2 linked regions of the Homo sapiens genome follow. The protein of the gene in region 1 interacts with the protein of each later gene in a pairwise test. Each region holds a gene or a part of one and is shown on either strand. Other genes may lie near its edges.

Region 1 (3,388 bases):
TAGGAAAGTCGACTGGAAGCTCAGTTGGGGTTAGATAAACTCCAGAAGAGATCCCTCCCCATTGGCGGATCAAAGTGGTTTGTGGGCACAATGCATCCCAGGTGCAGGCAATAAGAGGAGATGCTGTCTGCAGAGAATTTAGAAACAGAATAAAGCTGAGTGAGAGAATAAGAGTCAGTCAGCTTTCTCCTTTTGTTTTGTTTTCTTTTGTCTTGTTTTCTTTTATTTTTAGAGATGGAGTTTTGCTATTTTGGGCAGGTTCGTCTTGAACATCTGGCCTCAAGCGATCCTCCCACCTTGGCCTCCCAAAATCTTGGGATTACAGGCATGCACCATCGCGCCCAGCTGAGAGTTGGTCAGCTTTTAATCATCACCATGCCCCAGCAATTCTACCCACCCTGGTCAGGGCTAGAATCTCCCTCCCTGGGGACCAATCCTCTGCCCCTCTATCCCTCCCCACACCACTGCCCCTTCCCAACCACGAGGGAGTCTGATGAACAACTCATTTTTGTTGGTTTCTTTTCAGTGTTTTATTTTTCAAAATATACAATTTAAGTTTTTATTTCACAACCGTAGTTTTGTATATTTATTCCAAAATCTTTAAATAGCTCCGCAGCAAACAGTACAAATCACAAGGTCCGTCAAACTGCTTCTCTTTAGCCTTTACACTTGGCGAGTTTTTTAAGTTTCAAGTAGTAATGGTTTGTGGGTAAGAAAGGAACCAAAAACAGGAGGAAACAACATTTTTTACATAAGCTCAACATGTAGGATTAGAAAGGGCCGTCTGACCAGCTCCTTGGTCTGGGACCAGACTAAGAACATGTATCTGGTTTATAAATAAGACCGTCCTGGGAGCAGTGAGGGTTTTGGTTACGAGGAGGAAGGGGCAGGAACCTCATCTGCGGAGGCTGGGAGGCAGGGGGAGGTGAGGCACTGAGAGGTGGCTCCTTCTGGGAGCGCCCGAGTAGGGGCCTGAGCGGGGTGGAGGCCAAGAATGGCCAGGGACGGGGTGGGGCTGCCACTGGTGGAGAAGCCTCCTCAGCCTCCCTTGGGGAGAAGGGCTGTGATTCTGGAGGCAGGGGAGGGACGGCAAGAAAAGCTGCCAGGTCCTAAAGCAAGCAGCTGGGACTCCTGCCAGCCACCCTGGGCCCAACGACGCAGGCAGCTGGCAGGGCCAGAGGGGCTGCCCCAGGGTCTGGGGTGGACTGTGGGAGGCATCACGCTGTCTCTTCTTGCGAGAGCTCTTTGTCCACCTCAGAGCCACCAAAGCCTCCCCAGAAGGGACAGCAGGGAGGACAGGGACCACAGATCCCACAGACCCACTTCTGACTGTGAAAGCGAGCTGTGCCGTGCAGGCAGCTCCTAGGCAGCCCATGAGGCTAAGGCACAAGGGTGACACAGGTGGCCACGAGGGCTCAGTTTTCTTCATTTCCCCTTGCGGCTGCTACCTGTGGCCACGGCCTGAAGCAGTCCTGTGGGCTGAGCTCTAGGCAGGGACGCTCCAGGAAGAAGTGGGTCACCAAGGGCCACCTGGCCACCAAGTGGATGTGACCCTCCTACCAGGGGTCAGGAGGGCGGTCCTGCCTCAGGGCCCCCTCAGCACCTTCCACTAGGCTGCAGGGCCGGACACAGCCCATCCTGCCTGGCCAAGCCAACCTTCTTAATGGGGTCTGAATGGCGGGTGGGGGTCGGGAAGGGGCCAGGGCCGGGCTGAGGGCAGGACGGAGGGGGTGGGAGTTGTCACTGCGTCTTCAGGTGGGGTTTCTCTGGAGTGAGGGTGTGGAAACAGTAATCCCACAATTTAGTGCTGATACCAAATCCTAGAGAGGGAGACAAACGGGGAGAAGATGAGGCATTGAAGGAGCAGGCGTGCGCTGGCTTGGGAAGGGTGCCAGGGTAGGGATAAGAGGTGGAGACAATGTCAATATCTGTCCCCTTGGCCTTCCCAACTCCCGAGGCCATTCTGGCAGAAGTCAAGGGTGGGGAACCTGTGTCTTTTATTGTCCCCAGCATGAAGCTGGAATAAACCCTAATTCCTTATCTGGCCTTCGTTTCTAGGCTACGTGGCCCCCTCCCACCCCCCACCTCCATCTCCTTCCCCTTCCTTGGGGCCCAAGTTCATTCCTGCCTCAGGGCTTTGCACCAGTCGCTCTTGGGACGCCAGATGCTGATTTCTCTTCATTAGGGTCTTAGCTCTAATGGCACCTCTGCAATGACACCTGGACCATTTAATCTCTTTGCTGTCCAACTAGCCCTTAGCCACACATGGCTACTGAGCACTAGAAATGTGGCTAGAGCTCCAGAGAAACTGAATTTCTAACTTCATTTAATTCTGATGAATTAACATGTCAATGTAAAAACTGATGCTTGATTGAGTTACTGGAATTTTTTTTTTTTTTTTTTTGAGATGGAGTTTCGTTCTTGTTGCTCAGGCTGGAGTGCACTGGTGTGATCTTGGCTCACTGCAAGCTCCGCCTCCTGGGTCCAAGAGATTCTCCTTCCTCAGCCTCCTGAGTAGCTGGGATTACAGGCGCGCACCACCATATCCAGCTAATTTTTTGTGTTTTTAGTAGAGAGGGGGTTTCAACATGTTGGCCAGGCTGGTCTTGAACTCCTGACCTCAGGTGATCTGCCCGTCTCGGCCTCCTCAAGTGTGTTACCGGAAAATGTTTAAGCATGTTTGGAGCAACTTACCTATGTGAACTACTGTTTGCAAATTTTATAAAATCTAGATATGGATCTAGTATTTCTAATGAAACTTTAGTATCTGAATTGAGATGTGCTGTAAGTACAAAATACACCTTAGATTTCAAAGACTTAGTATAAGAGTTGCTAATTATTTTTTTTTAAAGAGACTTTACAAAAAGGGTCTCACTCTGTCACCCAGGCTGGGGTGCAGTGGCATGATCATAGCTCATTGCTGCCTCAAACTCCTGGGCTCAAATGATCCTCTTGCCTCAGCCTTCTAGGTAGCTGAGATTACAGGTGCATATCACCACACATGGATAATTAAAACTTTTTTATGTAGAGACAAGGTCTTGCTATGTTTCCCAGACTGGTCTGGAACTCCTGGCTTCAAGCAATCCCCTGCCTCCGCCTCCTATAGTGCTGGGATTATAGGCCTGAGCCACTGCGCTCAGCCATTAATGATTTTTTAATGTTGATTACATGTTGAAATAATAATTTGCTTATGTTAAGTAAATGTTATTAAAATTCTTTTCATCTGTTTATTTTCATGTCTTAGTGTGGCCACTAGAAAATTTAAAATCACATATGTGGCCCACATAATATGTCAGTGGAAATCGCTGGACCCTCCCCCACCTATGTGATATTCCATCACCTTGCTTTACTTTCTTCTTCTTCTTCTTTTTTTTTTTTTTTTTATAGA
Region 2 (7,890 bases), on another chromosome or scaffold:
GTCCTTTGTTACTGCAAACCAACCCTTTTTGGTCACAACAGAGCTTATGCTAATGAAGTGACTCCAGGCAGGGTCCTTGGATAGCTTCTGGTTGCCAGAAAGACCAAAGCATGATTAGAAGGTTGGGATTTTCAGTTTTGCTCCCAACTTCTGGGGAGGGGTGAGCAGCTGGACATGATTTAATTCATCAAGACTACATAATAAAAACCTCTGACCAATGGGGTTCAAAGAGCTTCCTGGTTGCTGAACGTGTGGAGGTGCTGGGAACAGCAGGGCACTCCTGAAGTGAGCTTGTGGCAGGCCTCCATAACAACTGTTTCAGTACTGACTGCGTGGTTAAGTTAAATGTTAAAAGCCAGTGCCCTTATACAAAGGCTGGAATGTAACAAAAGCCCACCAGGAGTTTTGCCTAGGCCTTTCCTGGGCCTTAAAGCATGACAAAATTACGAAGGAATTCTTAATGGGACCCATTTAGGATTAAACAAGTTTTACTGTGGATCTGAAGAAACGCCACAGGTCTCCACAAACAAGTTTATTGGGATCTGAAGGAATTCCTCAAAACTCCTTGATTTAGCAAGAGACAAAATAAGGGTAATCACCCCAGCACCTGGACCCATTTAGATTAAGTAAATTTACTGAGGCTCCAGTGGAAGGTCTTCAGGACTCAGACCTTAGTTATAAATTAAAAGAAGTTAATCACGTCTTTAGATGAATGCACATTTACACATAGACATATAGCTTAGAAGGTATATAAGTTCTGAAAAACTTTGTAATTTTGAGTTGGTCCAGCGATAATTTCCTGGCCTTCTCCCTGTAACCGGTTACAGAAATAAAAACTCTCTTCCTCCCCAGTTCATCTGCATCTCGTTATTGGGCCAGGAGCAATAGCAGCCCAGCCCTCAGTTTGGTCCAGGAACAGGCCTGGAAGCTCCGCGCCCTGACACCCTGCCCTATGTGTCTCCTCCGTTTAGCTGTTCCTGAGTTGTGTCCTTTATATAAAAAACCAGTAATAGTAAGTAAAGTCCTTTCCTGAGTTCTGGGAGCCATTCTAGCAAATTAGTAGATCTAAAAAGGGAGTTGTGGGAACCCCCGAATTCATAGCGGGCCAGTCAGAAGTCAGACCTATGATTGGTACCTGAAGTCGGGGGGAAGTCTTGGGGGACTCAGCCCTTAACCTGTGAAGTCTGCCCTAACTATGGATAGTGTCTGAACTGAATTGAATTGTTGAACACCCAGCCAGTGTTGGGAATTGGTGTCAGAAAAAACGTGGCAGTGGTAGGGAGCTTGTGGGGTAGTGGGGGTCCTTCTCTTTGGGGTTGAGAGATACCACTAGTGCCTCAATTCAGTTTCATCCTGAAATTCAAAGGCCTTCATGACCCTGCTGGGAATCTGACCACCGTTTTCCCACTTATTTCTGGGTTACAAATTCACACCCAAACAAACTTCTGGAACATGACCATTTATCCTATGGCAATTAAAGGACTTAAGGACTATAGACATCCTGCATGCCCCACCACGCATCCCTGGGCTCACCTGGATTTTGAGCCTGAATTTTCTGATGCCAGAGAAAGCTTTAAGTGTATTCAGAGCTTGGGTTTTGACACTGTTGTCCTTGTCATCCAGCATGTAGCCCAGCAACACGATGTCATCCGTAGTACAAGCAGAGGCCTGGAGTATTGGGGAGAGATGGAAGAGGCAGGAGAAGCGGGTGTTCTGGGCCCACTGCCCCCCATGTCACCAAGATCCCTCCGCACACCCCCCCCCCACCGCTATCAGCCAGAGAGAGGTCCCAGGATATAGTCTGGCCATTCCAGGGGCAGGGATCGGCCGTAACCCCCAGGGGCCAGGCCGGCTAGGGGGGACCTCCTGCTTCCCTTACCTCAGCCTCCAGCAAGTACACACAGCGAGTGATACTGTGCAGGATCATGCTCTTGGCATACTCATCCTGTTTGCACTCCAAAGAGTTGAGGAGCCTCCGGAGCTCACCTGAGTCCCGCCCGTGCCGCTCTCGCTCGACTGCCAGGCCTAGACAGCCACCCCAGCCCAGTTCAGGCTGTGGACTCAGAAGTGATGAAAGAATGGGGTTGGGAAGTAGGGGACAGGGACTTGGGGACAAGGCTGCCTTGCCTTTTCGGAGAAGCCTTCTCGCCATATGCAGGACCACCATGTACAGTTGAACGAATGTTTACTGCACAAGGGCACCCTATCTAATGTTGTATTGTCCATAACGTACCATCATAGATTTGTCCATTTACTCTAACAACTGTCTGGCATATGGCGGTAACAAGTAGTATTTCATCATAACCAGTATGTGGCAATGATATTCCAGCAGATGGCAATAAAGAGTCTTGCAGAAGGGGCTCATTTTCCTACTCTGCACAAAAGAACATGTGGACTAGTGGAAGCTCTGGGCATATAGTAAGTCCTCCAATCTTCCCTTTCCTTAAAGCCTCACGTTCCTAGGGCAGAAAAGGGATGGGGGGAGCTGCCGACACCAAGTTTCCAAGAAGTGGAATCCTGGGAGCCAGAGGAAATGTAGTATTTGGAGACCTGCCAGATGAGTCTGAGGATCCACTTGAGTGAGATCCAGGGACCCTGAGCTAGCATCTCTGGCAGGGCCTTGCCTAGGACGCTGCAGGGTGGGCTTGAGGAAGATGGACAAGAGAAAGACAAAGGAAAGAGGAACTTGGAGGCATCACCTTTGGGCCCTCCCACAGCAGAGGCCTCGGGAGCAGGTGCCTCCTGGGGCAGAGCCCTCTCCCCAGGGCCCGGACACTCACGGGCGATGCAGATGGGTGAGTTGCTACAGAGGGGTGGTTTGCATTTTATGCCAGCCTTGATGGCCTTGTAGAGCAGGTAGATCGCCCCGGCGCCTGTGGCCAGGCTGACTACGCTTTTGCGGATGTCCAGTTGCCCCAGGTATTGGGGGATGCTCTTGCCCATGTCTTCAGTGTTGCCCTGGGCCCAGGTGAGAGCTAGGCCCAAGGCACCTGTGGGGGGCCTTCCGGAACCAGAACTCTGGCAGGGTCAGGAACCAGGGTACCAGAATTGGAACCTAGGCAACAAAGGAAACTGGGGAGATAATGGGATGGAGGGCAGTGGTCAGGAAATGGGGCAGCCAGGAGTGCTCGAGAACAGATGGGGCCAGGCACCATGGCCCACACTTGTAATCCCAGCACTTTGGGAGGCCAAGGCAGGCAGATCACTTGAGGTCAGCAGTTCGAGACCAGCCTGGCCAATATGGTGAAACCTTGTCTCTATTAAAAATACAAAAAAATTAGCCAGGCATTGTGGCGCACACATGTAATCCCAGCTACTCAGGGGACTGAGGCAGGAGAATCGCTTAAGCCTGGGAGGTTGAGGTTGCAGTGAGCTGACACGCCACTGTACTCCAACCTAAGCGACAGAGCAAGACTCCATTTCAAAAAAAAAAAGAGAAGGTTCTGCTTTAGAGACCACAGGAGATGAAGCATAAGACAGAAGGGGAATAAAAGGGGAGAGGGCAGAAGTGTCCTTCACATCTCCTCTTCTTTAAGGGGGGACCCCAGCAGGTAGCTCCAGAGGCTGCCTTTCCACCATTAGAGGGCAGCAGAGGTCCATTTCCGGGCTGGGGCCTTAGGGCATTTCTGGGTGAGGTGTTTGGGGTATGCCCATTGACAACCCTGTTCCTTTTCTTTCCGGGCCCTCCCATATGTGATCTCTCCACCCTAGATCTACCCCTGGGCCTTGGGGTGTTTCTTCAGGTAGGGTTCCCTCCCCGCATCAGAGGATGAAAAGGAGGGGAGTATCTTAGAAAGCATGCACAGACTCTTGAGGCAAATCCACCCTTTTCCAGCATCTGCATGTTGCCCTGAAGTTTACCTGTTTGACAAAGTGCTCTTGAGGACAGCTACCTTTGCATCTCCAGCATAGAATCTTGTACTTAGCAGGTGGTTTAAGTCATGTTCTGCCATTCTTTAAGGACTTGGCGGCAGAACAATGACAGCATCTAGTAACTGGGGCTCCAGACCCTTCTAACCAGAGTGACCTTGGAGGAGAAAGGGATCGCCTTTGCCTTAGTCTGTTTCTGCATTTGTAACCTAAAGGGATTCGGATTTACCATTCTAAAACTCCAGGATTAAAATGTGGGTAAGTCTGTGCCTTTCAGCTAAATTTGGAAGTATCACCTCTCAGCCTCCCCAGGGATATGAGGCGGCTTGTGAGGTCCTCTGGAGTCAGAAGATGCCACCACCCCAGAGGATGTGAGCCCACCTGTGGAGGTCTTGATCCCCACCACTAGGATGGGGCAGGTGAGACCAGACCCTTCCCTCTTCCCCACCAGGGTCTCCCCGCAACTTCTGTCCCCACTCTCTGTTGCAGAACAGGCAAGTGGCCAGCTCCAAACTAGGGCCACGCCCACAGCCAGTGCTGAGCATGCTGCACCAGAACAGGTGTTCACCTACCTGGCCCTGATCCCTTTTTGGGAGAACTGGGACAGAAGGCTCTGGGTCCTGGGCTGCACCCAGGATGGAAGGAGGTAGGGAAACAGCATCTCCAATGATGCTGCGGCCAGCCAGGCCTGCCCACTCAGAGCCTTGGCCCAGTACACCCTAGGCAGCAGGCAGGGAACAAGCAACACTCCTGGGTGGCCATTCTATTCCTGTCCTCAGCCCTCCTCAAGGGTCATCATTCCTGGCACTCTATTTAGCCCCAAGGTGGGTGACTACATGAACTCCCTGTGGTGAGGGGTGAGTAGAAGCCCATGGAAGCCTCCCCACTGCCATGCAACCCCATCGCATCTCCACTGAACTCCGAGCAGAAAACGGCTGCCTGATGGGAACTGTCATTTAGGTTCCCAGGCTACTTTGGTGGATCTGAGAATAAATCCCTCAAGACAAGGTCCTTGCTCTGCCCTTCTCCAGGGTGGGACCCAGAGTTACTGGCCCCTCCATCCCATGGAGCCGATTCTGCAACCCTCACTTCCTAAGCACAGGTAAGGCTCACCTGTTCTTTAAAGACCTCCAAAAAGTGTTCTTTCTTGGCTGCAACCTAACTCCCTCCTGCCACACCTAAGGCCCATTTCTTCTGGTTCTGCCTTCAAATGATTCAGAGAGATTAGAGGCAGAGTCATTCCTAGAGTGACATTTTTACTAGTCCACAGTACAACAAAAAAATTAAAGACAAAGGAATGTCTATTTGTTGGCATAAAGTCCATTGACCATCTTTTCTTGGGAATAATTGTTTTCTTTCTTTTTTTTTTTTCTTTTTTTTGAGACAGGTTCTCACTCTGTCACCCAGGTTGGAGCGCAGTGGTGCGATGTTGGCTCACTGCAATCTCTGCCTCCCAGACTCAAGCAATCCTCTCGCCTCAGCCTCCCAAGTAGCTGGGACTACAGGCATGCGCCACCACACCAGGCTAATTTTTTGTATTTTTGGTAGAGACAGGGTTTTGCCATGTTGCCCAGTCTGGTCTCGAACACCTGAGCTCATGATCCGCCTGCCTCGGCCTCCCAAAGGGCTGGAATTATAGGCACGAGCCACCGCGCCTGGCTGGAACTAACAGATTCAGATGATGTCACTCCTATTTTGAGAATTAAAATGTATTTTCTTAGGTCAGGCGTGGTAGCTCACACTTGCAGTCTCAGCACTTTGGGAGGCTGAGGCGAGTGGATTGCTTGAGCCCAGGAGTTCGAGCCTGGCCTGGGCTGAAGCAAACCCCGCCAACCCCCAACAAAAAATACAAAAATTAGCTCAGCATGGTGGTGCGTGCCTGTAGTCCCAGCTATTCTGGAGGCTGAGGCGGTAGGATTGCCTGAACCTGGGAGGCAGAGGTTGCAGTGAGCCGAGATCATGCCACTGCACTCCAGCCTGGGTGACAGAGCCAGACCCTGTCTCAAAGAAACAGAAGTATTTTCTTTAATGATGGTGATAATAGATCGTAGGTATGTTCTCCATGCCCTTAGGGAGCGTAAATTTAAAGCTGCAACTCTTTATGGGAACCTGGCTTTCACTTGTTTTCTGGCTTTGTTTTTCTGTCAAATCCAGAAATCTGGAACCACTGGTTAAAAAGAAGTCTGAGAGCCAAAATACACACAGCCAGCTGTGAGTTACTACCTGCCTTACCCAGGAAAAGGACATGAGCTGCCCAAGCACACACCTCTTTGCCATCTATGCCAGCATTTTTACCTTCAAGGCCGATGTTCTCATCGTGTTAAGTACATTTGAGTTTAGTAAGTAAGTATGGGTTCTAGGCAGGGTTCAAAACCAGTTCAGGGCTGGGCGCGGTGGCTCACGCCTGTAAACCCAGTACTTTGGGAGGCCCAGACGGGCAGATCACAAGGTCAGAGTGGCCAGCCTGGCCAACATGGGGAAACCCCGTCTCTACTAAAAAATACAAAAATTAGCTGGACGTGGTGGTGTGCATCTGTAATCCCAGCTACTCAGGAGGCTGAGGCAAAATTGCTTGAACCCGGGAGGCGGAGGTTGCAGTGAACCGAGATGGCACGACTGCACTCCAGCCTGGTGACAGAGCAAGACTCCATCTCAAAACAAACAAACCAGTTTAGTCATGGACTTAGCTTTGTGATCTCCTTGTGCCTCATTTTCCCCACCTGTAAAATAGAAACAATAAGACTTACTTCATGGGATTGTTTGTGAGGATTAAGTAAAGCACTTGGAACAGTGCCCAACACACAGAGCTCAACAAATGTTTACTATAATCCTAATTATCTCCGCAGGTTTCACCTGGACAACATGTGGGGCGTGGGCAGGCAGTGAGAACACAGATGGTAGCCCTCGAAGCATCCCAGCCTGAAAAGCACATGAGTCAGCCCTTCCTTCCACTTACCCACTACCTCTCACGCTGGTCGTCTTTTTTATTTTTTCTCTCTCTCTCTTTTTTGAGACGGAGTCTGGCTCTGTCACCCGGGCTGGAGTGCAGTGGCGCCATCTCGGCTCACTGCAACCTCCGCCTCCCAGGTTCAAGCAAGTCTTGTGCCTCAGTTTACCAAGTTGCTGGAACTACAGGCACGCACCACCACGCCCGGCTAATTTTTGTATTTTCAGTAGGCTGGATTTCACGATTTCGGCCAGGCTGGTCTCGAACTCCTACACTCAGGTGATCCGCCTGCCTCGGCCTCTCAAAGTGCTGGGATTACAGGCTTACGCCACCACACCAGGCCTCCCTGGTCTTCTTAAAGTCAATCAATCCCAACTCCTGTAATCCATGTAACTGCTTTGAGTGACTCTGGAGCCATCTTTGAAGCCCCCACAAATACCTAAATGAGGAACAGGAGCCCTGCAACACATTCCCCTAAACTGTGTTCCTAAGAACCATCCAACTACCTGTGGAATCCTAAGGCCCCTTCCTCATTCTCTTTACCAGTATCCTGGCAATGGTTGTTTAAGCCTAGTTAATGACAGAAGCTCCAGACAGATACTGTTGGGGGTCCTCTACGAAAAGACACCGCCATTCCCGAGGGTGACGCTGCAGCGGCCCAGCACTTGTGCGCATAGAAGCTAAGGGGAAATTACCCTACCCTAAACTCCAGTGAAAAGCCCTTTGCAGTCCGACAGGCTTGCATTCACATCCCAACAGTGTGGGGTTTGGACAAATTCCATAATCTGAGTCTGTTTCCTCCTCTAGAATGCGAGTCTATGAATTCCTGTCTACTGCCTGGAAGTGCCGCTGTCAGGACTGAGATAATGTGTGTACTTTCGGTGCACAGGGGACGCTCAACACGTGCGAGCTTCCCTTGCAGAAAGCCAAGAGATGAAAGGCTGGGGGCCGCCCCTGCCTTAACGTGGATCCCACACTCTCCGAGATCATCTCCCCAGCTAGCGCTTACTCCTGCCCAGGAACCAGATCCTGGGGCCTCCGGGTAGCTCAGCCTAAGGCGCGGGGAGCAGAGG

The links. Proteins that work in one complex are often made in the same cells at the same time.
Region 2: the proteins of FA2H (region 1) and ARMC12 interact in binary tests that used the Homo sapiens proteins (3 or more experiments, as listed by UniProt).

What each region holds. Positions count from the first base shown.
Region 1 is NC_000016.10:74,712,450-74,715,837, forward strand, and holds the end of FA2H (fatty acid 2-hydroxylase), read right to left. Parts: intron 1,821-3,388; coding exon 1,741-1,820; 3' UTR 520-1,740; downstream 1-519. UniProt on the Homo sapiens protein: Catalyzes the hydroxylation of free fatty acids at the C-2 position to produce 2-hydroxy fatty acids, which are building blocks of sphingolipids and glycosphingolipids common in neural tissue and epidermis.
Region 2 is NC_000006.12:35,732,162-35,740,051, reverse strand, and holds the start of ARMC12 (armadillo repeat-containing protein 12), read right to left. Parts: upstream 3,021-7,890; 5' UTR 2,944-3,020; coding exon 2,781-2,943; coding exon of another isoform or gene 2,700-2,780; intron 2,054-2,699; coding exon of another isoform or gene 2,026-2,053; coding exon 1,880-2,025; intron 1,669-1,879; coding exon 1,534-1,668; intron 1-1,533. UniProt on the Homo sapiens protein: Essential for male fertility and sperm mitochondrial sheath formation. Required for proper mitochondrial elongation and coiling along the flagellum during the formation of the mitochondrial sheath.